Regions from separate parts of the Homo sapiens genome. Here region 2 is linked to region 1. Evidence: fine-mapped expression QTL. A gene starts in region 1. The other region holds a variant in brackets. All regions are shown on one strand. Distances are between the middles of the regions.

The links. PIP is the estimated chance that this variant, and not a neighbour inherited with it, causes the effect.
Region 2: its variant is fine-mapped to the expression of SYS1 in monocytes after triphosphate RNA (Kim-Hellmuth 2017, PIP 0.95).

Annotation. Positions count from the first base shown.
Region 1 is chr20:45,351,298-45,366,595 of GRCh38, reverse strand. It overlaps SYS1 (SYS1 golgi trafficking protein), which reads right to left and starts at 3,440. Exons shown (of 4, transcript NM_033542.4): 1 at 3,281-3,440; 2 at 2,903-3,067; 3 at 910-977. The coding sequence starts at 3,064. It overlaps SYS1-DBNDD2 (SYS1-DBNDD2 readthrough (NMD candidate)), which reads right to left and starts at 3,427. Exons shown (of 6, transcript NR_003189.2): 1 at 3,281-3,427; 2 at 2,903-3,067; 3 at 910-977. LOC124904914 (a long non-coding RNA gene) reads left to right here and starts at 3,228. Exons shown (of 2, transcript XR_007067609.1): 1 at 3,228-3,528; 2 at 3,770-4,240. RefSeq lists an enhancer at 3,271-3,710.
Region 2 is chr20:45,227,012-45,242,309 of GRCh38, reverse strand. It overlaps LOC105372630 (a long non-coding RNA gene), which reads right to left and starts at 11,473. Exons shown (of 3, transcript XR_936763.3): 1 at 11,284-11,473; 2 at 10,877-11,034. It overlaps LOC124904913 (a long non-coding RNA gene), which reads left to right. Exons shown (of 2, transcript XR_007067605.1): 2 at 1-2,942. The variant A/T (reference allele first, on the strand shown) is at 7,463.

The DNA of each region.
Region 1 (15,298 bases):
GGGGCAGTAGCTACTTGCATCTAGGCAAATCTTATCATGCTAGAAGGTTGGCCTGGAATCAGTCAGTCATTCCATTATTCAAGAGAAGCCAGAAATCTGGATTTTTATATAAAATAGCCTGATTTTCAACTAAGTGAAAAAAATGTTTTAAACACCATGTGTGGGCTGACATCTATGTAAGCCAAATAGAACCTATCTGGAAGACAAATTTAGGTCAAAGTCAGCCCACCAGTTTTCAACCTCCGGTGTAAGGACAAGAATAATAATAACATGCAAGGCACTGTTCTAAGTCCTTCTTGTGAATTAACTTATTTAATCCTTACAACTATGAGGTAGGTAATATTACTAGCCCCATTTTACTGATGAGGCAACTGTGGTAGATTAACTTGTCCAAAGTCACTAGACTAGTAGTAAAGCTGAGGTTCAATGCCAAATGAGTCTGCCTCCAGAGCCTGACACCTTGACCACTATGCTAAACTGCCTCTTAAGAGACAGGCAATGATTACGTGTGACCTTAGACATCACTGAGTCCAAACCCTCATGGACAAAAGAGGAGCCTGAGGCCCATGGCAAGTAACTTGGCCAATGGCACACAAACCAAGAACAGAACCCAGTTCTCCTGCCTCTCGGTCGAATCCTTTCTCAGCTCACTCCACATCAGGGAAGTTATCTGAGATGGAAGTTGTCTTGCAGGCAGCACAAACATAGTGACATAAGAGCTTTCCAGGTAAGTCAAAACAGCAATGGAAGGAGGCCCATTATACAGCTGGTCCCAGAACTGGCCTCTGTCACCCACTTTACTCCACCACTCCCCAGAAACAAGTGCCAGCCTGTCTCATGTTCAAACTTAGGAAGTTAGTCCCAGCACTAAGAGCCCAAAAGCTGGATAGCAAAACTGGTGATACTCACCAGGTGAGGGCGTTGAGGATGAAGGACATCATGGAGAGCCGGCCTGGAGGGGTGGAAAAGCCCAGGATCTGAGGGGGAATCACAAATGGAAATATACTGGAGAAGTGACTTGGCAGAGCCCCAGGATCTCAGCAAGCCTCCTAAGGAACAAGCATTCTTCCCAGAGCACAGAAGATAATACCTCCCTACATCTGTACGGCAGCCTATTTCCAATAGGTGCTTTCATAGACATCCATTATGGGATTTCATTTGTTTCTCACAGCAGGTGGAAAGGGATTATTCTCATTTTACAAAGGAGGACGTAAAAACTCAGACAAGTTAAGTTGCCCAAAGTAATAAACAACAAGAGTAAAGTCTAGAACAGCGTTCAGCTGACTATGGCTCCATAGGCCTGGCATCTGCTCCTGTACATAAGGTTTTATTGAAACACAGCCACACCTATTCACTTATATATTTGTCTATAGCAGCCTTCTGTGCTACAATGGCAGAGCTGAATAATTGTGACCTAAAATCCTTACTACTTCACCCTTAAAGGAAAGGTTTGCTGATCCCTAGGCTAGAACTCAGGTTGTGTGCATCATATGGCTCTTCAACAAAGCCTGGCATTCCCACAGCTCTTCCCAGGAGCATAGAGTCTCCTACGAGACTACAACTAGGCATATGGTGGGTGTGCAACCTCCACTATCCAACACAATACTATCAAATGCCAAACATCTGCACCACACTTTCAGCTGACAAAGAAAGGTCTTTGACATACATAATCTCATATTATCCCTAAAAAAACCTCACAAAGCCATTCTTCTTCTTTTAATTCTTATCACTTTTTGGATAATAACTTGCCCAAGGGCTAACACAGAGAACAAGCAGCAGGAGCAAGGACTCCATCCCAGGTCTCCTGGCTTTAAGAACTGTGCTCGGCCGGGCGCGGTGGCTCACGCCTGTAATCCCAGCACTTTGGGAGGCCGAGGCAGGCGGATCACGAGGTCAGGAGATCGAGACCATCCCGGCTAAAACGGTGAAACCCCGTCTCTACTAAAAATACAAAAAATTAGCCGGGCGTAGTGGCGGGCGCCTGTAGTCCCAGCTACTTGGGAGGCTGAGGCAGGAGAATGGCGTGAACCCGGGAGGCGGAGCTTGCAGTGAGCCGAGATCCTGCCACTGCACTCCAGCCTGGGCGACAGAGGGAGACTCCGTCTCAAAAAAAAAAAAAAAAAAAAAAAAGAACTGTGCTCATCACCACGCCACAGCTGCCTCTTAGATGTAACAACTTATAGGCCTCCTTTACACTTTACAAAGTACCTTCTTATTCCTAAACCCCTCTGGGCCTTGTAACATTTTGTTGAGGGCAACATGGTAGGAGCATCCGGCCCACTTTTCAGAAAAGGCTCAGAAAGGGGAAGCAACTTGCCCAAGGTCCCACAGCTAGTTTTATATGTTTAGGCCTAGACTGAACCCTTGCTTTTCTGAACCCAAAGCACATGCTCTTTATATTGCAGTCCACGACCTCTCTGCAACTAGTCTCATGGTTTTGAAGACAGGAAAACAAGTTCACAGAGGTGACATTTGCCCCAGGTCACACAGCTAGTAAGTGGATCTTAAACGGACGCCTGTCTGACCCCAAAGTCCAGGCAGTTTCCACTGTACCCGCACGAATGCTCTTTTATCCACCCCTCTCTCCGATGTGGCACCTGAGAACCTAGCTCAGAGAAATCAAGTCACTTTCCCAGAGTATCAGAAAGGAAATGTATCAGAGTTGCCTGGAACACAGACGTGTTTATTGTATTAACATCCAGGCCCTTTTCTTTGTACTAATCAGCCTCTGCTGTCATTCCATTTTATGGATGAGGCAGCTGAGGCTCAGAAAGGTGAAATCCCTTTCCCAGGGCTACAAAGAAAGAAGGTGACCCAGCCACGTCTACAGCACAGTAGTGATGGACCACAAAGCCTACTCGGGGAGGCCGAGACCCCACCCGCCCCAGTCCGGGGACCCTACCTCGGCGTCGAACATCTGGTCCAGCGAGGGGCTGCTTCGCACTAGCCCGTCCACCAGCGCCAGCCACAGGCCCAGCGAGCCGTAATACACGGTCTGCATGAGGACGATCTGCGACAGGATCAGCAGCGGGTCCCACACGTAGCTGCGGAACTGACCCGCCATGCCCTGCAGGGACACGAGCCGGGCCTCAGCCAGCGGCCTGTCTCCATGGCAACGTCGCCCCGCCCGGGAGGAGGGACTGGAACCAAGGGGTGAGCCCATTCCAAGAGTCAGGGGGAAGGCGGGGCAGACAGACCCATTCTCAGAGTGAGGGGAAATCCAGCCCATTCCGCCTGCGCGGCCCCCGCCCGTACACGAGCTCCTCTGGGGTCTACTCACCAGTGACAGACTCGACGATCGAAGTGTCTGAGCGTGGCCCGGCCTCACCGGCGGGCTCCCAAAACAGCGCTGACAGACAGGACCATGGAGGAGAGGCGCTGCCGGCCTAGAGAGGCAAAGCTCCAGCGACCACGGCGGCAGGAGCGGCTGCGTAGGAAAGAAACGTTTCCGGGGAAAGCAGCGGAGGGGCGGGGCTGAGGTTGCGCAGGCGTAGTGGGTGCAACCTCTGCCTGAACCTCCTGAACCAGGTACAAGCAGCCGGATAGCGAACTGAGCACATGCGCAGAAGGAAGAGTGAAGGCAAACGGAAGAGAGGAACGAAGGCCGCAGAGCTTGCGCGCCCTCTAGAGGGGAATTCTTTTTTTAAAGGAAGGCGGCTAGGGGAGAGGCAAGTGGGGTGGCTTAGGACGCGGTAATGATGTTTGGGAATTAACGAGGTGATAAACTGTGTCGTTATTTTCAGCCTAAATTCTCAATGTTTTCTCCTAGTTAGAGTCTGATAACTTGAAGTGGACCTGCAAGCTCCTCCACGTAGGAGTTTGCCAATGTTCCCGCTGTACAGATAGTTAAGCTAAGGGCCAGAGAAGGAAAGCAACATACTGTTTCAACGACACAGTTAGTAGCAAAGTAAGTATTAAAATTCAAGTGTTGGTCGGGCGCGGTGGCTCACGCCTGTAATCCCAGCACTTTGGGAGGCTGAGGTGGGCGGATTACCTGAGGTCGGTGTTTCGAGACCAGCCTGACCAACATGGAGAAACCCCGTCTCTGCTAAAAATACAAAATTAGCGGGGCGTGGTGGCGCACGCCTGTAGTCCTAGCTACTCGGGAGGCTGAGCCAGGAGAATTGCTTGAACCCGGGAGGCAGAGGTTGCAGTGAGCCGAGATCACGCCATTGCACTCCAGCCTGGGCAACAAGAGCAAAACTCCGTCTCTAAATAAATAAATAAATAAATAAATAAATAAATAAAATTCAAGTGTTTCCTCAACACTACAACATTGATTTCGCACCTACTCGGTGGCAGGAAGGCTAGAACATGTATATATAAGACAGCCCCTGCCCTGAGACACAGATGAACTATATTAGAAGGCAGAGTAGTGGGTGTTTTAAAATGTGGGTGTCCAGTGGAAAAAGGCACAGGTTCTGAAGTCGCACATAGGAGTAAATCCTGACCCTCTCTGCTGCCATGACTGTTTTATCTATCTTCCAAATCCGAATAGTGGACAGTCAGTAAATATTTGCTGAATGAGTTAAGAACAGAAAAAGCAAGAGCAAATCGATAACTCACTTATTCCTACTCCAGCAGACGAAAACCCATCAACTTCATTGATCCTAGGTTCCCCCTCTCTGAAGTGGAAAGACGGGAAGTAAGTTGTTCCAGGAAAAGAATTTGGGTTTTAGGGCCAGCTATGCCACCCAGTGTGACCAGCAAGCCACTTCCTTCTTTAAACCTCAGCTTCCCTGTTTATGAAATGAGGAGTTGGACATGATTAACGTTTTCCACCATTTAATCTACCTTCCAGTAATTATTTTCTCATTAAAAAAAAAACTTAGGCTGGGCACAGTGGCTCATGCCTGTAATCCCAGCACTTTGGGAGGCTGAGGCGGGCAGATCACAAGGTCAGGAGTTCAAGACCATCCTGGCTAACATGGTGAAACCCCATCTCTATTAAAAATACAGAAAATTAGCCGGGCCTGGTGGCAGGCGCATGTAGTCCCAGCTACTCGGGAGGCTGAGACAGGAGAATGGCGTGAACCTGGGAGGCGAAGCTTGCAGTGAGCCGAGATTGCGCCACTGCAGTCCAGCCTGGGCGACAGAGCGAGACTCCGTCTCAAAAAAAAAAAAAAAAAAACGTATCAAAGAGCCATGTAACTGCCAATCAGAATTTCTGAACAGCTTGTGGTAGCCGTGTTATCACCTTGAGCTGATACAATTCCAGACAAAAGTAAAGAAACTTGAGACTTTATTGAGAGTGTGCGATTGTCCTTATCATTTGGAAATACCCTGAACAGTTCCCCTGGACTCCAGTTGGGGAGTTATTAAGGCCCAAAGATTTCTTAGGTGCTTTCCAGCTCAACCATTCTTTTAGGCACCTCAATTCAGTCCAACAAATATGTATTCAAATTCCTCTAGTTCACTGATTATGCACATGATCTAGTGTTTCTGAGAAAACATCTGTTTCTTAAGTGCCTACATGATCTTGTTTAATTCTCACAATCTGAAAATATAGCTATTGTCCCCTTTTTATAGGGGAGGAAACTAGGCTTGGGGGGAGGTGGTGTGACTCTCTAGGTCAGAGAGCTCACAGGGAGCAGAGCTGAGATTCAAATTCAGGACAACTGACTCCAAACATCAAGATGACTTTTAGTTTAGTTTTGGTTTGGTTTAGTTTGGTTCTTTGAAACAGGGTCTCAATCTGTCACCCATGCTGGTTTGCAGTGGCGCAATCATGGCTCACTGCACCCTCAAACTCCCAGGCCCAAGCCTCGGCCTCCCGAATAGCTGAGACCACAGGCATGTGCCACCACACCTGGCTTTTTTTGAAACGGAGTCTTGCTCTGTCGCTCAGGCTGGGGTGCAGTGGCATGATCTTGGCTCACTGCAACCTCCGCCTCCCGGGTTCGAGCGATTCTCATGCCTCAGCCTCCTGAGTAGCTGGGATTACAGGTGTGTGCCACCATGCCCAGCTAATTTTTGTATTTTTAGTAGAGATGGGATTTCACCATTGTGGCCAGGCTGGTCTGGACTCCTGACCTCAAGTGATCTGCCCGCCTCAGCCTCCCAAAGTGCTGGGATTATAGGCATGAGTCACCATGCCTGGCCCGCACTTGGCTTTTTTGATTTTTCATTTAATTTTATTTTTTTGTAGAGACAGGGTATCCCTATGTTGTCCAGGCTGGTCCTGAACCCTGGGCTCAAGCAATCCTCCCACCTTGGCCTCCCAAAGTGTTAGGATTACAGGCATAAGCCGCTGTGTCCAGCCAAGATGCCATTTTAGAATAAAAGAACAGGAAAGAAGGGAGGAAGGGAGGGAGGGAGAGGGAAATAAAGGAAGGGAGATAGTAAAATAGGTGGTGGAGTAGCAGGAAGTGGAAAAGGGGCAGTGAATCTCTCTGCTCAGTTAGCCCTGGGGTGAGGGATTAGGGAGAAATGGGAGGAAAGGCTTAGAAAAGGGCTGCAGAGGTTGACAATACCCAGGGCAGCTGTCTTCCTTGCAGATGCTGGAATGCGTGGCTCTTCCTGGGCTCTGCTCCCTTCACGTCACAGCTGGGCCCACTCCACCCCATCTCCTCCCAATAGGAAAGGCCCTGCCTACCCATTCTGCTGAACTAGAAAACACAGGTAGCTTTTGATATTAGGGCTGGCTGGAATGTCTGATGTCATCCCTGGAGTCCGGAGCTCACCTCTGGGAAAACCCCACTGGGCGTGCAAGCTAACCTCCTGCCCTTTCCTTTCCCCTTTGGGAGTTCAGTTCTTGGATTCCCGCCTTGCCAAGCTTCGGAAATGTACATCATCCTCCGTCTTAATTTGGATCCAAGAAGGAAACCAAGAGCTGGGGAAAATCATGGCAACCCCTTTGTTTAGCTTCATTGGCCCATTTTCAAATTTGACCACAAGCAGTCTGCTTCAGACCACAGAGTCTGAACTAGAGCCCCACTGGCTTGCTATGTGACCTTGGGCGAGTCCCCTGGTGGGTCCCAGTATCCCAAACTATCAAATGAAAGAGGGACATTGGACTCCGACTTGCAGATGCTGTCATGGCCCTGTGCCATCTGAATCACCTGAGGAACATACTGGATATTCAAATTTCCAGTCCTTGTTTGCAAACCTAAGTCCAGTTCAAGTCTCCCAAAGCAGAGTGTGGAAATCTGTGTATTTAGAGAGCTCCCCAAGTGATTCAGAGGTGCACCCACATTTGATAACTACAGCACAAGATGATCTGTAGTTGACCCTAAACCGGCTCCTTCATCCAACAGAAAACTGCTCTGTGACCTTGGCGAGTCACATTCCGGCTTCAGGGTTTTCTTCCATCTGTAATATGAGGGGATTGGATTTGAATAGCTAGCTGGTCTACGAGGGTTCTTCCTACGCTGCCAAGTCTGTGGTTCCAAACTTATGAATGAAATGTTAAACTTCAGGTCAGAGGCAGAGTGACGAAAAGCCACAAGCTGGGACAAACTGTCCTTTGGGTGGAGGGGAGGGGAGTGCCTCTGGTCACTTGGTCTCTTTCGTCACTTTCACACTGGGGCCCCACTGCATGCATGTAAGGACAATCGCTAAGGTCACCTTCTGGATCCACCCCCATAAATCCCTTGGGAAATGTTCTCCCATAGGCCCATAGGCTTGAGAGCCCTGCTTAGATTCGAATCCTGGCTCTCTGGCTGTCTTGCTGTCCTGCTGGGTGACCTTGGGAAAGTTACTTCATGTCTCTGAGTCTCAGTTGGTTTCCTCTTCTATAAAGTGGAGTTCAGAATAGTACCCATGTTATGGGCTGTCCTGAGGGTCAAATGTGTGCTTAGTCCACTGCCTGATATGCAGTGGGCACTATGTTAACCTCAGCAATGTTAATATGATTGTTATTATTTCTTCCTCTGGAATGTGGGAACGGAAATGCCTGATCTCAGATTTATGGCAAGGATCTAACAATGTATCAGACAAGTCAAGCCCGGTGGCTGGCCCATAGTAAGAGCACATTAAATGTGATACCTTCTCTTCCTCCTCTCACCCCTACTGTCGTGTTCTCTAGATCCCTCCCTCTCTCCCTTCCTCCCCCTCTCCCTTCCTCCCCCGCTAGGCTGCCCTACTGCCCTGCTCACATGTTTCCTTTCAGGGAATATTTGATGAAGACACTTCAGTAGAAACACGTGTCTCAGGGACACGTTATGCAACTCTGTGCTCACAGGTTTTTGGAAACCCCACGTGGGAGGCTTGGAGTTGGCTGCCTGTCCTCTACATCGGTGACCATCCTGGGCTCTGGCCAGTGAGTTCCTCTCTTAGAAGGAAAACTGGAGAGAGAGCTCATTAGCTGCCTGGTTTCTCCTCCAGACCGAAAACCCCTTTGTTACCCAGGTTGCTTTAAGTGCTGTTTGTGTCTGTGTTTGGGGAGGAATATTTGCTGAGCATCTACTGTATGACAGGCACTTATATAATTTAATCCTTATTTAATTTCTAAAACAAGCCTGTGAGTTGAGAACTATTAATAGCCCCACTGAACACATGCAGATCCTGAGGCTCAGAGAAGGGACATTTACCCAGAGCCATGCTGCCAGTGAGTGGTAGAGCTGAACTCCAACCCAGGCCAGTTTGACTCCACACACTATTCCTTCTCAGTGTGTAACAAAAAGCGCACTGAAGGCCAGGCAAGGTGGTTCATGCCTGTAATTCCAACACTTTGGGAGGCTGAGGTGGGTGGATCCACCTGCAATCAGGAGTTGGCGGCCAGCCTGGCCAACATGGAGAAACCCTGTCTGTACAAAAAATACAAAAATTAGCCAGGAGTGGTGGTGCATGCCTGTAATCCCAGCTACTTGGGAGGCTGAGGCAGGAGAATTGCTTGAACCTGCGAGGCAGAGGTTGCAGTGAGCTGAGATTGTACCACTGCACTCCAGCCTGGGTGACAGAGTGAGACTCTGTCTCAAAAAAAAAAAAAGGCACTGGACATTACAGTGACATACAGCTTTCATCTACCTGACCTCATCTTATTGTTGCAACAGCCCCAGGGATGTAGGTATAAACATTGTCCACATGTTACAGGTAAGGAAATTGAGGCTTAGAGAAGGAAGTGACTCACACTCAGTACACATTGAGGTGTGGCATGTCTTGTCAGCTGGAATAATCAAAAGTTAAGAAACATCTGGGGTGTCTGTCTTTCCACTCTAACTTTCCACCCCAACCTCCCTGTTCTTTCCTTCACACCAGAGGGAGTCAGGAAACTGGTTTTCTGTGTTCTGTGTCTAATGATCAGGGGTTTTCTGCAAACCCTCTATCTATGCAGGGTGGATGATGCCAGGCATGACAGTGGGTGGAAGGACCTCTGAGTACAGCCATCCCTCAGCATCCATGGGTGGTTGGTTCCAGGACTCCTGGCAGATATGAAAACCCAGAGAAGCTCAAATCCTTTATATAAAATGGTATAGTATTTGCATATAGTCTATGCAATCTTCCCACATTCTTTAAGTCATCTCTAAACATCTAATACAATGTAAATAGTTGTGAAACTATATTTTAATTTTTATTTGTATTATTTTCATTGTTGTACTGTTGTTTTATTTTATTTTATTTTTAAGACGGAGTTTCACTCTTGTTGCTCAGTCTAGAGTGTAACGGTGTGATCTTGGCTCACTGCAACCTCCGCCTCCTGGGTTCAAGTGATTCTCCTACCTCAGCCTCCTGACTAGCTAGGATTTACAGGCATGTGCCACCATGCCCGGCTAATTTTGTATTTTTAGTAGAGACGGGGTTTCACCATGTTGGTCAGGCTGGTTTCGAACTCCTGACCTCAGGTGATCTGCCCACCTCAGCCTCCTAAAGTGTTGGGATTACAGGTGTAAGCCACTGTGCCCGGCCTTTGTTGTTATTTTAGAGACAGGTCCTTGCTCTGTCACCCAGGCTGGAGTGCAGTGGCGCTATCATATCTCACTGCAGGCTCACACTCCGGGGCTGAAGCAATCTTCCCACCTCAACCTCCTGAGTAGCTGGGACTACAGGTGCATACCATCAGGCCTGGCTATTTTTATTTTATTTTATGTAGAAAAGGAATCTCACTATGTTGCCCAGGCTGGTCTCAAACTTCTGGGCTCACGTGATCCTCATGCCATGGCCTCCCAGAGGGCTGGGGTTACAGGCATGAGACACTGTGCCCAGCCTCACACCTTCAAGTTTTCTTACCTTGATTCTTGACCCCATCCATCATGTACTAAACTTTCTGTCCCTACCTAGAAATTATTCTTTATTCTGACCTTAAAGGACTCAGGGCCTTGTTTTAAGATGAAAAGTTGTTTTTTTACACTTCCTTTTTATCATTATTTATTCATTCAATCATCTACTTGATAAATATTCATTGAGCATTTATTATGTGCCAGAAACTGATCCAGGTGGTATGGATATAAATGAATAAAGTGAATAAAGAGAAAATACTCTAATCTCATAGAGGAGAGAGATGATAAACAAGTCAATCAACAATATAAAATCTAGCGTCAAGGAATGTCAGTATACTCAGAACACCAACAGTGTGGGATTCTGTTATAACATCAGAAAATGGATGAATACAATATTTATCTCTGCTCCTTTTAGGACAGGACACTTGGGAATCAGGAACAGGAATCAGGGCTGTAAGTTCAGTGAGACAGCATGGTGATGCAGACAGAATCAAAGAAACTTGAGTTTGAATCTTGTATCAGTCAGCTTTTGCTACTTAACAAACACCCCACAAATCTCAGGGGCAACAGAAATGGATTTCTCAATTGTAGATTTGCAGGTGGGTTAGGGCAGCTTTGTTACAGTTACGGTTTTGTTGTCATTTCTCCTTGCTCCGCCTGTTTTCTCATCTGTAAAATAGAGATAAAACTACTTACTTCACAGCATCCAAGTGAAGATGATGCTCAACACTCCCTTCTGATTAAACATACACTCTGCTCAGGGTATGTGAGAAGCTAAATGTTCAACCTCTAGGCCAAATAGTAATCCAAAAAGTGGTCTGGGCTGCAGGCGCTTACTTAAGGAATAAGGAAGGCCATTGGCCAAGCCAATGAGTCTTGTGGTCCCCTCCCAAAATTTAGACTAGAAGAGAGAACCAGTAAGTCAGTAAAAGAGAGAGAGGCACACATCCAGGAAAAAGAAGAGACACTCTTAAAGAAAGAATAAGCAGGCTTAAAGAGCAAGAGATGAGTCAGCCAGTCTGTGGCATCATCTCAGTCCTTGATGTTTCCCTTTCAGTTTTAACCTTTAGCCCTCCCGGTCCTCCTAATAACTCCTAAGCCTTTTCTTAAGGAGTCCTGAGTGAGGCATGTTTCCTCGCAATTGCAAGAACTGAGCTAAGACAGAGAAGATGCATATAAAGTTGCCAGCCCACAGCTTGGCATATAGTAGATCCTCAGTCTACTGTATAGCTGGCAGCTATTGTCCGCTAATCAGGGAGCTGCTTAAGAACACGGACAGGTCTTGTTCACCAGGATTTATCAAAAAGCTTCTCACATACAAGATATTCATCAGATGTTTTTTGGATAAATGACCAAGTGAGTGAATTGCTACATCTGAGCCTCTAAGGGAAAATGTCCAAATGGCATTCATCCAGTTATCCATGCGACAAGTATTTACTGAATGTAAACCTCTGCCAGACCTTGGACAAGGTGCAAGGGATGCAGTTGTGAACACAACAATGTTCTTGCCCTCATGAAACTTACATGTGGCAGAGAAAACAGAAAATAAACAAGTAAAAGAATAAGTGCGTGATGGCAGGTAAGGGAAATGTTACGACAAAAAAATAAAGCAAAGCAAGTGGAAAGAGTAATTGGAGGTGTTATTTTTAGAATTCTTCAAAATGCCTGTGGTGGATGCTGATTCACCGTGTGGGCCTCGGTTTGCCTATCTTATAATGCGGGTACTGTTGGACTGAATGATTTGAGAGGACCCTTCTGGGCCTAGTGTTCTTAGTTTCTGTGGTTATGCAAGGCAGTGGCTGGACATTCCACAGCCCCTGGAAACTCTAAGCTGTCATTATCTGTAGCTGGAGAGAGATTTACATAAACTGAGGAAGACCAGAAAGGGTTGGCACCATCCTGGGCGAGAGCCCTATGGCCCAATCCTTTTTCTGTTCTGAAAATAGTAATGTGTTACCTGTTATTAACCATGTGTGAGGAGCTGCTGGGGAGGGGAGTAAGTCAAGACTCTTATGGGGAGGCCCCCTTGATTATAAAAATAGATAACACTTTGATGCTCCGTATTGTGCTAAGCACTGTAGTCTTAACATTTTTATGATGTTAAGAACTATAATGACCCTCAAATTACATGGGGGGACACATGAGAAAACTGAGGCACAGAGAGAAAAAGTGTCTTGCTCCATACCACCAAGATTGCAATCTAGGTCTCTTTAACTTTGAAGACTGTGCTCTTCACCTAAAACTAACATGAGTGAGAAAGGGATGCCTGCCCAAAGAGTGGGACAGATAGAGTCCTAGAAACCTCAAGGCAGGAAGAAATGAGAATTAAAAGAAGAGGATGGAGGATTCCAGGAGAAGGTAGCATTTAAGGTGTCTCTGGATGTACCAGGTGTGCACCTAGCCTTGGTTAACTCCGGCCTAGGAAGTCTGAGAAAAGGGGGAGGGACACCACCTCTGCTATAGGCTGGGTCTGAGCTCATTTTTTAGCTCCATGGGAGGGGGCTGCCTGTTGATGTCCTAGATCATTTCCTTTTGCTTGAAAGGAAGCTAGGGGGAGGATGTAAAGTGTTTGACCAATGCCATCTCTCAGACTCACTCAATCTCAGGTTAGAATATACAGAAAGAGTGCTGGACCCAACATAGGTGAGTATATGTTATGTGTTCACCACTTCACCTTATTCCATTCTCCTAATTAGTTCAAGAGGGAATTATCTCCATTGTAGGGAGGAGCAAAGGGACTCACAAACTTTCCTCCAGTTGGCAAGTCCTGGAAACAGGATTTTAATGAAGAACTTCTGGCTGTAAACACTGTGGGTTTTGTTTGGTTGTTTGGGTTTTTGTACCTCAGCCCCATGCAGGAAATTAGGAACTCCTATTCAGTATTACAAACCTTTGACTACTGCATTTTGTTTTTTGGAGGCCAAAGAAGAACCCAATAAAACTTCTCAAAGAATCTCAGGTTTTGGACAAATTATTTTTAACTCTTTGGGGGTCAGGATCACCCAAAAGGAGGATCCCCCAAACATCCTCTTTTTGTGGATATAAAGAAAGAATCTGAAGTTTCTTGCCCCAAAATAATGTATGCAGAGACACATAACCTAGAGGAGTACTGACCATGCATGTGTCCTCTGCCCCCAGTCATGGAGCCCAGGTTAAAGACCCATACATCCACAAATAATTATATTCAAACATGTTGCATCCCTTTAGAGATTCTCAGAACTTGGGGAAGGGGAAATTATTTCCTTAATTCCAGGAGGTTAAGATAGTTTTATAGAAGAACTTCCATTAACTCTCTAAACGAGCTGTTTTCAGTTTTTGTTTTTGTTTTTTTGCTAGTGTACTCTGTAAATGATTATTTTAAGACTAGGTACTCCTTGACATAATTTTTAGTTGATAGCTTAACATTTTTCATCAAAAGTTTAAATAGTTGCAAAGGTTGTAATTTCTGGCATATTGTAAATTTATACACGTAAAAGTAAAACAATTACATCACTCTTTTAAATGTATCCAGTTAAATTAAATGCCCTAGCAATTCGATACCTACAATCATCCATTTAAAAAATACATGAACAAGCTCTTTTCTAAGAGTCAGACATTTTGCATCATTTCTTTTTCTATTTGAAGTCAAATTTCTACTCCATGTTCCACCACAAAATTTTATCATAATGTGTTTTTTTTTAATGCGTCAGAGGCTTACTGATGACTCTTTTAAAAAGTCCTGCAATAATTTAAACAGCTTCATTAAGGTACAACTGGCATAAAATAAGCTATACATATTTAAAGTATACAATTGACATAAATATATGCTTGCTGTGTTAGGCTGTTTGCGTTACTATAAATATATGAGATTGGGTAATTTATAAAGAAAAGAGGTTTAATTGGCTTACAGTTCTGCAGGCTATACAAGCATGGCTCCAGCATTTGCTTCTGGCGAGGGGCTCAGGAAACTTCCAATCATGGCGGAAGGTAATGGGGTAGCAGACATCTCACATGGCATCATCAGGACCAAGAGACAGGGAAGGTGGAGTTCCCAGACTCTTAAACAACCAGATCCAGCGTGAACTGAGAGTGAGAATTCATTTATCACCAAGTGGATAATGCTAAACTATTCATGAGGGATCTGCCCCAGGATCCAGTCACCTCCAGGCCCCACCTCCAACATTAGGAATCACATTTCAACATGAGATTTGGAGGGGACAAACATCCAAATCACATCACTCTCTAAACCAGTCCTACAAACTTTGATAAATAATTATTAAGTAGAAAAAGTAAAGTTGTTTTAGAAATACCTGTCTTAATTAGGTGGCTGTGGCAATTTTTCTCTCCAATTAGCTCACTAAAACCTCCATGAGATTGGGTATAGTCGCTCATGCCTGTAATACCAGCACTTTGGAAGGCCGAGGCACGCGGGTCACTTGAAGTCAGGAGTTTGAGACAAGCCTGGCCAATGTGGCGAAACCCCATCTCTACTAAAAATACTAAAATTAGCTAGGCATGGTGATGTGCACCTGTAATTCCAGCTACTTGGGAGGCTGAGGCACAAGAATCACTTGAACTCAGGAGGCTAAGGTTGCAGTGAGCAGAGGTTGTGCCACTGCACTCCAGCCTGGGTGATGGAGTGAGACTTTGTCAAAAACAAACAAACAAACAAACACCTCAACGAATATTGCTAGAATGAAACAGGTTTTAGCAATAATTTTATTCCTATTTTTCATTTTTTATAGCTGTCAAACCATGGTGTGGTAAAGCCATCTTGTAGTGGTTCATGAAAGTCAATTTTTAGAAATTTTGTGGCTGGGTGCCATGTAATCCCAGCACTTTGGGAAGCTAAGTTGAGAGGACTGCTTGAGCCCAGGCCTTCAAACCCAGCCTGGGCAACATAGTAAGACTGTGTCTCTACCAAAATAATAATAATAATAATAATAATAACAATAACAATAATAATAATAATTAGCTGTGCGTGGTGGCGTATGTCTAGTCCCAACTACTCAGGAGGCTGAGGTGGGAGGATCTCGTGAGCCTGGGAGGTTGAGGCTGCAATCAGCCATAATTTTGCCACTGCACTCCAGCCTGGGCTACAGAGAGAGATCCTGTTTTTTTTTTGTTGCTTTTTTTTTTATGTCATTAGCCAGTTGTTAAAC
Region 2 (15,298 bases), 120 kb after region 1:
AATGCTATTAAACATCTACAAATTATACATTCTACAAAAATGTTTTAAGACAAGAGAAGCAGAGAAAACACTTCCCAACTTCTTTTATGAGCCTAAGATAACTGTGATACTAAAACCTGGGAAGAACATTATAAAAAAGTTTACTTACAGTCTAACATCCTTCATAGACATAGGCATAAAAATCTCTAACCAAGTAGTCATAAACTCAGTCCAAAAATATGTTAAATAGATTATACATTAAGGTCAAATGAGACACACATTCAGGATATGTTTTGTATTAAAATTAGTCAGTGTAATTCACTATATGATCATCTCAACAGAGAAAGTATTTGACAAATCCAAAACCCATTTATTATAAAACTTCTCCACCTGCAAGGAAGAGAAGCTCTCCCTCTCAATATGATAAAGGGCACTATATTCAACTTAAAGCATATCTTAGTGGTGTACTGAAGTGGAAGGAGGTTATTGGAAGGAGTTCACCCCAGTTGTAAGCAATAAATAGGTCCCCCAATTGTAGAGAATTTAAGAATAATAATAAAAGTGGCTTAAAAAGCTGTACTGTATATTATCACTATGTGCTGGCAATTTTAAACAGAGTCAGAGATAAACACTCCCTCCTCCTCAGATGAACCACTCCCACTGCCACAATCCTTGGTATGCCGCTGATAAACATCATCTCTAATGGTAAAATATTGGATGTTTTCTCCTTAAGGTTAGGAGAAGGCAAGGATGTCTGTCTTCACCATTTCTACTTAACATTGAGAGCTTGGCCAGTGTTTTTGTTTATTTTTATTTTTTTTCTTGAGATGGAGTTTCACACTTGTCACCCAGGCTGGAGTGCAATGATGCAATCCCAGCTCACTGCAACCTCCACCTCCCAGGTTCAAGTGATTCTCTTGCCTCGGCCTCCCGAGTAGCTGGGATTACGGGTGCCCTCCACCATGCCCAGCTAATTTTTGTATTTTTAGTAGAGACAGGGTTTCACTATGTTGGTCAGGCTAGTCTTGAACTCCTGATCTCAGGGTGATCCACCCTCTTCAGCCTCCCAAAGTTCTGGAATTACAGGCGTGAGCCACTGTGCCTGGCAAAAAAAAAAAAAAAGTATTATAGTCTTTACATTCTTTTGTAAGAATTAAACCTTGGGATTCAAAATAGTAACATTGCTGGTTAGAAGTCTAAAGCAAAGACCAGAAAATGCTGACATGTAGAGCCAAAAATTAAGGTCAATGTGTTCAGAGAATGAATCAGGAGCACTAAGGAAAAAGCAGTCACCATCTAATCATGTTGCTTGTACCTGTTGCCACATTAGGAGTATATGCTTATCATTCTGTATGCTACTAATAGTGAGTCATTCTTGCAAATAAAATTAATTTTAATAGACGTACAAGTGAATATATATATAAATCCTATGAGTGGTGTTTCAGGAAATAACAAGTTTGGAAGCAAATAAGTTCTGAAATTGGCAATTTTGGTTTACAGTTCTGTATAGAACTGTTAACTTTGCTAAGGAGATCCGAAATTTTAATTGTTCACCTGCTAATAACTAGCATATTTCTGAGAGTATGAATATTCACAACCTACAGTTCTTTGTAAATGTGATAAACTCAATGTTTCTTAACCATCAAACCATGTCTATAATGAGTAAGCAGTGTGAAGAATGTTGGATAAACTTTAAGAACAACTTTAATTTAAAGAATTCCTGGGAATTCTGAAATATTTTTCTTAAATCTTGAATATAAATATCTGTTGGTAACTTGAAAGCACTAGAAGAAAATATCTACAATGGCAATACAAAATTATGAGTATCATAACTACACTACCATGTAGCACATATAATATTAATTCACTTCTACTGTCACTTGTTTCTATTTGAACTAGGTCACTTTAATTATATAGTCAACTTTATTGGGGCTTTTAAAAGTGGCTTGTTTATAGAATTTGTGCCAATGCTCATGTTAAGTTGAGATTTTAACCAAGAATGGTAATTATAAATTGTTATCATCACTGATAATTTGTGGGATTGAACTTCAGTCCAGAATATTATATACATTGTTAAAAAGAAATGATCTTATTAGGAAGGGGGTTAAGAAGCATTGTATATCAAGAGTGGGCATGGTGGCTCATGCCTGTAGTACCAGCACTTTGGGAGGCTAAGATGGGCGAATCACTTGAGGTCAGGGGTTCGAGACCAGCCTGGCCAACATGGTGAAACCCCATCTCTACTAAAAATACAAAAAGTAGCTGGATATGGTGGCACACACCTGTAATCTCACCTAATTGGGGGCTGAGGCAGAAGAATCACTTGAGCCTGGGAGGTGGAGGTTGCAGGCGCTTCAGCCTGGGTGACACAATGAGGGAGATTCCATCTCAAAAAAAAAAAAAGCATTGCATATCAAAATAATACATAAGAGAAAATCAATGAACTTAGAAGCAGCAACACTGTAGAATACATGTTTGTAAGAACAAAAGAAGAAATAAAGGGAAGACAAACCTTGTGGGAATATATTACAGACCACCCAACTGGTATGGTAATGAATGATACCTTCTGAAGGCAGTTTATAAAAATAATATAAAGGCAGGATAAAATAATAAGCAGTTGCTTTTATCTGAAAATTATTTCATTTATGTTATGTCTTACAGTGCCTGAGTGCATTTATAACAATAAATGCTTCTTAAATGAGAAAAAACAGGCAAGTCTTAAATTGGTAGATGTCAGCATAATGATTGCCCCTGAAGGGTTGGAATTAAATTTGAATGCGTCATAGACAACTTTCAAGGTTGATGAGAATGTTCTATATCTCCATATGATTTTGTGTAACTACACATATGTATTTGCCAAATCTCATTCAAATAAATACATTAGATCTGTGCTTTTCTTTGTATATATTTTACCTCAATATTAAGATATAATAAAAGATTGTTTTATTATTATTATTACCAAATTTGTTGTCATGCTGGAACTTTTTATTGAGCACTGGGGCTGAGATAATCTCACTCAATACCTCTGAAAATCTATATGACATGGTTATTATTATTCCCACATTAAGACGCAGGAGGTCTGGCCAGGCGTGGGGGCTCATGCCTGTAATCCCAGCACTCTGGGAGGCCGAGACAGGCAGATTGCTTGAGTTCAGGAGTTCAAGACCATCCTGGGCAGCATAGTGAAACCCCATCTCTACTAAAAATACAAAAAATTAGCTGGCCATGGTGGCGTGCACCTGTAATCCCAGCTACTCAGGGGGCTGAGGTGGGAAAATCAGGTCAATGCTGCAGTGAGCCAAGATCACACCACTGCACTCCAGCCTGGGTGACAGAGTGAGAAAAAAGAAAAAAGAAAAGAAAAGAAAAAGATGCAGAAGTTCAGCATCAGAGACCTTGCTGCTCAAGACTATGTAAGTGGTGAAAACCAAGGTTCATGCTAATTGTACATTTATGTATAGAACTGTTAACTTTGCTAGGAGATCCAAAATTTTAATTGTTCGCCTGCTAATAACCAGCATATTCTTGAGTGTATTCTCCCAGAGCATTTATGGCTCTGGCTCTTTTGCTTGTTGGCATATCAATTTAGATACCCTTCCTGACTCCATACCATTACCAGTGTGTCAAGAACACTGTTGAATGTATCTCTGGCCACACATAAAAGTGAGAATCTTGTCACCAGACTCTAGCAGGGAATTATAGCTTCCCTGATGCTAAGGCCCCTAAGCCCACCATGGTCTCTCCTCTTCAATTGCTGGGCTGGAAAAATAAGGCAGGTGGCTGAGCACAGGGCATCCGTGCTCTAGGGAACAGTGCAGTGGAGACAGGTTCTCATGCCACTGTGATGATGTCTGTTACCACACACCTACAGGCAAAATTTAGATCTGATAGAGAAGATCCTTCCTTCCTTCCTTCTTCTTTCTTTCTCTCTCACTCTTTCCTTCCTTCCTCCTCTCTTCCTTTCTTCTTTGTTTCCTTCCTTCTTCCTTTCTTCCTTCTTTCTTCCTTTTTTCTTTCTTCTTTCTTTCTTCCTTCCTTTCTCTCCTTTCTTTATTTTATCTTTCCTTCTTTCTTCTTTTTAAATGAACTCCCAGAATGTTGGGCTAGCACGCATGATCAGAATTACTACACCAAATTTTCTATGTGCAGATGAGGAACTTAAGCTTGGAGAGAAAACAGATTTAATTGAAGATGCACAGGTTCTTATGGCAGAGCTGGAACTAAAATCCAGATCTCCTATCCCCAGTCCAAAGGTTTTCTATTCTCCCATTCTGGCTTCTTCTCCTAGAGGTTTATCCTTCCCTGGAAACTTTCTTAGGAGAGGGGAAGAAGACAGTATAGGCAGCAGAGCTTCCATTTTAAGACTTCCCAACCCCCAAAACTCTTTTAGACCATCCTCTGGTATGTCTATTCACAGATTGTTTTACCCAGTCATGCTTACTGAAATGGTAGAGAGTTGCCACATCAATCGCTGGTACAAGATCTTAAGATCTTAATGGATACTGTAGGAGGAGCACAGTCCTTGAACCAAGTGACGGGTTGGGCTGCTGTGGATTTGTGGAATTGATGGCACCAGTAGATTAGGGACTAACAATCTCTCAGAAATACCAGAGAAATGTATTGCAACAGGCCCTAGCAAACCCCCTGATATATCAAGGTACAGAAAGGTCAAAGGTCACCAATCAGATTCAGTCCAAAAAATACCAGACATACATATAATAGTCAAACTATAAAAGATCAAAGACAAAGAAAGGATCCTGAAAGCAGCAAGAGAAAAGAAGCAAATAACATATAAGGGAGTTCCAATATACCTACATACAAACTTCTCAACAGGAACCTTAAAGGCCAGAAGGAGAGTGGCATGAGATATTCAAAGTGATGAAGAAAAAAAAAACTGTTATCCGTGGATACTGTACCCAGAAAAGTTGTCTTTCAGAAATGAAGGAGAAATACTTTCCTAGACAATCAAAAGCTGAAGAACTTCATCACTAACAGGCATATCTTACAACAGTGATCCTAAACCTTTTGGCACCAGGGACTGATTTCGTGGAAGACAATTTTTCCATGGATAGGGGTGGGGAGGGAGGGGGTGGTGGGGCGGGGCAGTGGGGGCCATAGGGAGCATGCAACCTAGATCCCTTGCATGCACAGTTCACAATAAGGTTCCTGCTCCTATGAGAAACTAATGCCACCCCTGATCTGACAGGAGGCAGAGCTCAGGTGGTAACGCTCACTCACTCTCTGCTCACCTCCTGCTATGTGGGCTGAGTGGGGGTGGGGGGCGGATGGGGAACCCTCTCTTACAAGAAAAGCTAAAGAAAAGATGAAAGAAAGAGTACTCATGTGTAACAATAAAAAAATTAAAAGTATAGAACTCATTAGTAGTAGAAGTAATTACATAAATTCAGAATGCTCTAATACTATAATGGTGGTATGCAAATCATATCTTTAGTATGAAGGTTAAGAATAAAAATTATTTTAAAAAAGACTCCAATAATTCAGGATGGGATATGCAGTATAAAGAAATTTAGCTCAGTGATGTCACCAAGACGACTGACTATAGAAGACAGGCACTCATTCTCCCCACAAGAAAGTACCAAAGCAATGAATAAACTGATGAAACTCGATTAGAGAGTCCAAGGAAGAGTATTCGAATATAGCAGGGGAGTGGAGATGCACCTGTGGGGATTGGAAGTCTAGCAGGGCAGCATGGATGCATCCAGCATCTGCCGCCCTGTCTTCCACACCTGGATCCGATCTATCTGGAGTCAGGAGGACATCCTATTGTGGGGAAAAGGTAAGCAAAAGAACCGCACTAGTCTCCACTACCACCACAAACACCTAAAATCCTTACTACGGAGAATCCTGCAGTACTCACACACAAGCCCTGAGCCGTTTGAAACGCTGCTAGGAATTCATGCAGGTGCATTGCTTTGAACTGAAAGCACAAGGGGTGCACTCCTCATAGTCCACCTACCCACTGTCAGCCAAGATGCTGCAGCAGGTGCCATCTTGAGACCAGAGCCACCTGTGGAGTGCGCCCTCCTGTGGAGCCCAGTAGCCACTGCACTTTTCCCTCAACAGGGCTTGGTCTTCATTCCACCAGGCCCACACCAGTGGCTGAATGCCATAATCCCAGCAGCATCAAGTGTGGATACAGGACTGGCTGTGACTCTGGTCCTGTAGAACAAACAACCCCCGCTGCCCTCACTTCCGCCTGGAGGAATGGCATGACAGTCCCGCACAGGGTAAACCTGCCCTTGAACCAGTCAAACTGCTGCACACCCTCCTCTGAGTGAAAGTGGTGCTCAGGCCTCTGAGAAGTTGACACATTCCAAGGCCTGAGAAGCAGGTACACATCCATGTCTAGGGATTAGAAACATTTCCATGGTGCCCCACCCACTCAAACAAGCCCCTGGCCTACCCAATGGCCCTGCACCCACAATCAGGGCCTGAGATACAGACCTGTGGGCTGCCCCTGGCAGACATGCCCTAGGCTGCATGAGCAGCTGTGCAGCCATGCCCTGGGACTGAGAAACAACACCACAGGCTTCCTCACCAGGGGAAGCCTTCAGGTGGGCTGAGCAGCCATTAATTCACATCCTGGGGCTGAGAAACAGAAAGCCCCAGCAGACATGCACTGAGTCCAGCCAAGCAGCCTTGCACCTGTAATCCAGGCTTGAGAAGCAGCCCTGTGGTCAACCCCTGGCAGACATGCCCCCAGGAGGGTCAATCAGCTGTGTGCCCTGCATCCTAGACCTAAGAAGCAGCCCTCTGGGGCCACCTCCAGCAGACAGACCCCCAAGTCCAGCTGGACAGCCTTGTGCTTGCATTCCAGGACAGAGAAGCAGTCTTTCAGGTTGCCCCCAGCCGACATACACCCGGGTCAGCCAAGCAGCTGTGTGACCACATCCTGGGCCTGAGAAACAGCCTCATGGGCTACCCCTGGCAGGAACACTCCCAGGCTGGCCACGCAGCCATGTACCAAACAAAAATTCTAGAGTTGAAGAATTCAATGAATAAAATAAAAAAATACAACTGTGAACTTTAACAACAGAGTAGAAATAATTTCTACACTAGAGGACAGGATACTTGAAATAATATCAGCAGACAAAAAGATAAAAAAGAATAAAAATAAATGAAGAAAGCCTACAGGATTCTGGGGACACCATTTGTTCAAAATTAAGTGAACAAGTATTCACATTACGGGCATTCCAGAAGAAAAGAGAATGGAAAATGTATAAATAACATGTTAAAAATAGCTGAAAACTTCCCAAGTATTGGCAGTGAGATGGACATACAGGTCCAGGAAGCTCAAAACACCCCATTTAGGTTCAACCCAAACAGGTCCTTTCTGAGGCACGCTATTGTCAAATTGTCAAAAGTCACAGACAAAGAAAGAATTCTTAAAACAAGAAGAGAAAAGCATCATGTCACATATAATGAAATCCTCATCAGACTAACAGAGGATTTCTTAGCAAAA[A/T]CCTTATAGTCCAGAAGAGAATGGAATAATATATTCAAATTACTAAAAGAAAAAAAAAACTAGTGGACAAGAATACCCAGCAAAATTATCTTTCAGAAATGAAAGAGAAATAAAATTCTTCATAGATAAGCAATAGCTAAGGGGATTCATCACCACTAGACTGGCTTTACAAAATATTTTCAAGAGAGTCATGTCTGGAAGTGAGAAGACAACTGCCACCATCATGAAAGTTTAAGAAACTCTAAAACTCACTGGCAGAGCCGATACACAAAGGAGGAAGAGAAAAGAATCAAGAATTGTCACCACAGAAAACAACCCAGCCCAAAACTTACAATAAGATAGGAAGTAAGGAACAAAAGATATATGAAACAATCAGAAAACAATCAATAAAATAAGAGGTTTAAGCCCTCACCTTTCAACAACAGCCCCGAATATAAATGGATTAAATTCACCATTTAAAATATGTAGACTGGCTGAATGGGTAAAACACCTAAACTCAACTGTGTCCTGCCCACGAGAACTCACATCACCTGTAAAGACATATATGGGGTTGAATTGAAGGTATGGAAAAGATATTCCATGCAAACAGAAACCAAAAGCAAGAAGGAGTAGCTATACTAATATCAGACAAAATAGACTTCAAGTCAAAATCTGGAAAAAGGGACAAATAAGAACATTATGTAATAGTAAAGGGACTAATTCAGCAAGAGAACATAATAATTATAAATATATATGCACCCAACACTGGAGCATCTGGATATATAAGGTGAACATTATTAGAGCTGAAGGGAGAGATAGACTCTAACGCAATAATACGTGGGGATTTTAACACCCTACTCTCAGTATTGGAAAGATAATCAAGATGGAAAATTAACCCAGAAGCATCAAGTTTAAACTGTACTATAGATCAAATGAACTTAACAGACATTTGCAAAACATTTTACCCAGCAGCTATGGAATGCACTTTTGTTGTATCTGCACATGAAACATTCTCCAGGATTGACCAAGTGCTAAAATACAAAAGAAGTCTCAAAAAATTTTAAAAAATCAAAATCATATCAAGTATCTTATATGACCACAAGGAAATAAAACTAGACATCAATAACAACAGGAACATTCAAAACTATACAAAATATATGGAAATTAAACGACATGCTCCTGAATGACCAGTGGATGAAAAAAGAAATTAAGAATAAAATTAAAAATTCCTTGAAACAATCAAAAGTAGAAATACAAAAAAACGAAACTTATGGAGCATGGCAAAAATAGTATTAAGAGGCAAGTTAATAGCAATAAGCCCCTACATAAAAAAACTGGAAAGATATCAAATAAGTAACCTAACAATGCATCTCAAAAAACTAGAAAAGCAAGAACAAGCCAAACCCAAATTAGTAGAAGTGTTACATGATCTTTGGGGTGTTCATTTTCTTTCCAGAAACCTCTGTGGCTGGTGGCACCTTTGCCTGAGTTCCTGTTCTGCATCCAGAAAGAATAAGGTACACAGACAAGTGAAGGGTGAAGACGATGAAGAAGAGCTTTATTTAGTGTTAGAAGAGCTCAGAGGAGACCTGTAGTGGGTTGTTACTCTCTGTAGGCAGATCATCCCTTGAGTATTCAGCTCTCAACAGAGAGGGGGCCCTGGAGAGGGTGGCTCCTCTCTGCAGGCAGGGTGTTCGGATGTCTGCTGGTCTTTGAAGCTCTCGCAGAAAGGGTAGCTTCTCTCTTCGAAGCTCTTGCAGAGAGGGTAGCTCCTCTCTGATGTGAAAGATAGAGAGATGATGAGGAAAAAGGACATGTTTTTTTTCTTCCCTAATAGATGTTACTAACAAATGAACATTGTAGTTAGATTCTATTAGAAACCTCATAGAGTAAGATACCCATTTGATTTAAATGACAACATTTATCATATACCTAAATTTTTATCTCTTGAAACTATGCAATGATGATAAAATTATTAGATGTCAGTTTAAAACATGCTTGGGAAAAAGTAGTTTTTCAAAATTGTTAAGATACTTGTCAGAGATAAATAAAATTTTGGAAAATTACTTTCCCAGACCTCTGCAACATTTGTGGGAGTTAAGGAAGAATGAAGCACAGAGTTATAAATTTGGAAAATTCATGGCTAATTACACTTCATTATTAGGTAGACCTAGGGCCCAACCCTCAAGCAAAGACTCAAGGGATGTAGGCTGAACCACAAGGATTTTGTTCTCCTAATTTAGGGTGGCTCAATTTTTAGGAATGAAAGTACCTAGAACTAAAGTACATCTTGCTCAGTTTCTGACCCTAAGTTCCAAATCCAATCGCAGATCATATTACTTCAACACTTGGAAAGGCCACCAGCAGTAGTACCAGAAAAACTGAAGCAAAAATGCCTTGCTCTTCCATTACAGGATTAATCGGCATGCCATTCATAGGATGCAAACCCAGAGAATTTAACTCCAAAATGCACCTGGAATCTGACCAACAGAGAATCTGAGTGTCAGGAGATATTGAAAGAGACAAATATATCAGAAAAACACAAGTGCAGGAATTGATGAAACTAAATGTGAAACAGTAACTCTGTCCATTTTACAGTTCCTAAGGGATTATGCAACATGGCTGAGTAGAGAGGGAGAGCAAGAGATCAATCCAGCAGACTTAGATTTTCAAAGAGTTTTAAATATACAACGCTTTATTTCTTCGTCTTGTTATCATAGTAAGAAGCATTTAACTCTTGCTAAAAGGAAGTTCTGGGCCTGAGCGATCATGGACAACATGGAGACCAGTTATCCCAGACTGAGCCTGTAGCACTTGTGTCTCCTCAGTCCTGGTTAAGAAGGGCTTTCCATCTTGGGAGAGAACAGGAAACCAGAGATATAGGAAGATGCAAAATGTACAGGGCACATGGTTTTGTGTCCCGGGGGCATTGAGGCGTGATTCCTGTTAGGTATTCTCCTCACAAGAACACTGGCAGGTGCTGCCAAAGAGTCAGGGACTGGGGATCAGGGACTCTAGGCAAGCCATCCTAAGGAATTGTGAAATTATAAACTTACCTCACGATGTAAATGTAAAGAGGAAAATGTTTCATGATTGTAAACTGTAAGTAAAAGGATTTGAAAATAAATAATAAAATCCAGTAACTATTGAGTACCTTAGAGATAATCTTGTTGAAATGTCGACATTATAGAGAGTTATAGAGAGGAGAAGAGTGATGCCCATTATGTGAAGTGGAAGGTGCATATCTGAGCAAAGAGGTCTGTTGAGCCTCCTCCTTCACTTTAGAGAGGCAAATGCGTGGACTGACCCAATTTAAAAGCCCTGCTCACAACGGTTGCTAAACGCATGGGAAGTTCTCAGTTCTCTCTAAGACAAATGCTTCTGAGGGAAGGAGTTAGGGGCAGCAAGGAGAACAGCAGATCTGGGGCTCCTCACCTCAATCCAAAGTCCACCAGGGCTCCATACACTGATGCCGACAGTTGTAGTAGCAACACTTCTTGACCCCCTGCAACTCTTATCACGCCAGCGCATAGGTAAGAGAGTGAAAGGGCAGTCAAGATCAAACTCTGGGCAATATCCCGGTTTCCGTGCAGCTGGAAAAAACGCCATAGGTCAGGAGGCTGAGGCAGGAGAATCGCTTAAATCCAGGAGGCGGAGGATGCAGTGAGCCGAGATCTCGTCACTGCACTCCAGCCTGGGTGACAGAACGAGACTCCAAAAAAAAAAAAAAAAGCCGTAGGATGAGTGGGCACCAATGTGTGATTTCCAGGCCAGGTCACCCCATGGACTCCTCAGAGGAAACGTTCCCAACCCCAGCCACACCCAGGGTCGCCAGGCCCTACCTGCACTCCTCAAGACTCCAGGCTGGGTCATTCAGAGGCAAAGGAGGATGTTCACAGAGAGTAGAAAGAAGCCGCTCAGCTTCATAATGCAAGAAAACGGTGTGGGGGCACCTGGAGGCTGGACCTGTCTATGTCAGCTTTGGCGGGGCCCCATCAACAGATGGCGTTTTGACTCCCGGGGCTGGAGGTCAGAGGTGCCTCCGCTTAACCCGGAAGCACCATCTGTTTCCTTTCACCTCCAGGAAGAGACAACGTGAAACAACTGGGATGTAACTTCTGAGAGCCCTCATGGACTGCCTCCTTTCAGGGTGTTACAGAACTCTTCATCATTTTTACTTCATCCAGCAGATTTTGAGGCAATAGGACGCCATTGTCTGGATCCTCTTATGTATTCTCCAAAGAACACTGGCATGTGCTATCCAGGAATCAAGGACGGGGATCAGGGATTCTAGGCAAGCCATCCTAAGGAAGTGTGAAATTATATAAACACTCACAATGTAAATATGAAGAGGAAAGTGTTTCATTATTATAAGCTGTAGAAAATAGGAATAAAAAATAATAAAAACCCGGTAACTGTTGAGGATCTTAATGAATCTTGCTGAAATATCCTCTTTACAGAGAGGAGAAGGGTGAAGTCCGTTGTGTGAAATGGAAGGTGCATAATCTAAGCAAGGAGGTCTTGCTTCATTGTCCAGAGGCAGATCTATGGGTCGACCCAATTTAAAACCTCTGATCACAACGATTTTCTAGGGGAACATGAAGTTCTCAACTCCTTCTAAGACAATGCTTCTGCAGGAAGGTTTCACGGGCAGCAGATCTGGGGCTCCTAACCTCAATCCAAAGTCCAGCAGGACTCCATACACTAATGCCGACGTTCGTAGTAGCAACACCATTTAACCCCTTTGCAAATTTTATCCTGCCAGCACATGGGTAACAGGATGAAAGGGCAGGCAACAGAAAACTCTGGGCAACATTCAGGTTTCTGTGCAGCTGGAGAAAAATGCCACAGGGTGAGTCGGGGACACCAAGTGACTTCCAGGCATGAGGGCCAGGTCGTCGCATGGACTCCTCAGAGGAAATGCTCCCCAACTCCAGCCACAGTACGCGTCGCCACGCCCTACCCGCCACTTTTCAGGGCTCCAGGCTGGGCCATGTGGAGGAGGCAAAGGGGGACGGTCACAGTGAGTTGAGAGAGGCTGCTTAGCTTCATAATGCAAGAAAAGGGATTGGGCGCACCTGGAGGCTGGACCTGTCTATGTCAGCTCTAGCGGGGCCCCACCAGCAGGTGGTGCTGTGGCTCCGGGGGCTGGAGATCAGAGGTGCCTCAACTTGACCCGGAAGCACCAGCTGTTTTCTTTCACTTCCAGGAAGCAACCACGTGAAACAACTTCTGGGGTGTAATTTTTCAGAGCCCCCATGGATTTTCCTTTTTTCGGGGTGTTGCAGAACTGTCCTGGCTCTTCCTAATTCTTACTTTATACTGTCGAATTTTTAGGTAATAGGAGGGCATTGTTTTTCCCAGGGACTGCATCAGGACTGACCAATTTCCCTCTTCCCACTGTGTATCCAGAACATTTGAAACCGACTCCTCACAGCCATGTTCAGATAAGGGTGCATTTGAAGTGTTTACTTTTACTACATTAACATTGAAACACACACAGACAGAAAGTAAGAGCCAGATATTGATCTATTAGCAAGATAATTTCTAGATTTATGAAAAATCTAGTTCCTTGTGCACCACAGGCTTTAAGTTTAATTCGTGAAAAATTTTTCTCATTTAATTCATGTCTTAATGTCTTCATGACTGTGTCAAAACTTCACTAGTTGATAAAGTCAAAAGGCCAACTTATGGCTTACAGGACTTAAGATCATTGGTGTCCATTCATTATCTGACTAGTAAGCAAACGAAACAGGGAATTTAGTGGCTGTACACGATGCATAACACAGACTTTACAAAATTAGTCCAGGAATGTTACTAAGCAAGTATTCAGCAATAAAAACCACACAAACAAATGCTAAAGATAGATTCTGATTTCCAAAGCTGCCAAATTATATTACGTAGAAAGTACAATTTTATTTAAAAATTATGAGATGTTTAAAGAAACATGAAATACTGCCCATACACAGAAAAGAGGGGAAACAATAAATAGAAATGATCCTTTAGGAATCCCAGACAATGGCCTAGTGGACAAAGATATCAGTTATTATACTCAAAGAACTAAAGGAAATCATGGGCAAAAAGATTAACAGAAAGTATAAAAATCAGTTTCACATCATAAAAAAAATTCATGATGAATGATGAGGTTGTAAAGTAAAATCGCTGATACAGAAAGTCACAAGAGGGTCTTACCAGCAGATAGGAATAGACAGAAGAGAGGAACAACTACTATAATTATAGGTCAATTGAGATTATACACTCTGAGGAACGATAAAGAAAGAGACCTGTGTAATACAATCTAATGGAAAAACATGTGCATAATGGAAATCCCAGAAGAAAGGAGAGAGAAAGAAAGAGGCAGACAGATATTTGAAGATGTAATGGCTAAAAACATTTGATTTTGCTTTAAAACACAAATCTCCATGTATAAAAATCTCAATGAACACTAAGAAAAAACTGTAAGAGATCCACACCTAGACAATTTATAATGGAAATATCAATGACAAAGACAAAAATAAATTCTTTTTTCTTTGAAACAGTCTCATCCTGTCGCTCAGGCTGGAGTGCAATGGCACAATCTTGGCTCACTGCAACCTCCGCCTCCTGGGTTCAAGCGATTCTCCTGTCCCAGCTTCTCGAGTAGCTGGGATTACAGGTGCACACCACCACGCCCAGCTAATTTTTTGTATCTTTAATAGAGACGGGGTTTCACCATGTTGGCCAGGCTGGTCTCTAACTCCTGACCTCATGATCTGCCCACCTCAGCCTCCCAAAGTGCTGGGATTATAGGCATGAGCCACCGCGCTTGGCCGAGAAATTCTTGAAAGCAGCAAGAGATAAATAACTCAAAATGACTAATAAATAAGCTTAACAGCTGATTTATCATTAGAACCATGCAAGCCAGAAGATAGTGAGAGAACATATTAAAAGTGGTGAAAGAAATATCGGTCTACCAAGAATTCTATATCTTGGCAAATCTATCCTTCACAAGTTAGGGAAAAATTAAGGTACTCCCAGATATATGAATACTTCATGTTTTTCACCATTAGATTTCCCATACATGAAATACTGACATGATGACATATGTAGAAAACTTTTAAGAATCCACATAACTCCAAAATATTATTAGAGCTAATAAACAACTCATCAAGGTGCAGGACAAAATATCAACCTATACCTTTCAATTGCATCATGAAAAAAATCCATTTACAATAGCATCGAAAAGAATGAAATACACAGGAATTTATTTAAGAAAATAATGGCAAGACATGTACATTTGTTGAAAACAACAAATCATGATGAAAGAAATTAAAGAAGACATAAAAATAGAGAGCCATTCCATGTTTGTGGATTGAAGACTCAATATTCTTAGGCAGGCAATTTTCCATATTTTATCTAAAAACTAAATGGAATTCCTATAAAGTTACAGATGACTTTTTGTAGAAATTGACATGTTAATCCTAAAGTTCATGTGTAAATGCATAGAACCCAGAATAGCAACCACAATCTTGAAAAAGAGTGCAAATGTAGAAGACTCATACTTCCATATTTCAACACTTACGGCAAAGCTACAGTGTCAAGACAGTGTGGTACTAGCATAAGCATAGACACATATATCAAAGGAATAGAATTGGGAGTCCAAAAATCAACCATTACATTGTCAATTCACTTATCTTCAACAAGGGTAGAAAAACTATTCAGTAGAAAAAGTCATCTTTTCAGCAAATCATACTGGGAAAACTGGATATCCACATGCAAAATAATATAGTTAGAACCTTATAGCACACCAGAATCAAAAATTCCACTTCCATAATTATACCCAAGAGAACTGAAAATGTATTCACGCAAATATTTGCA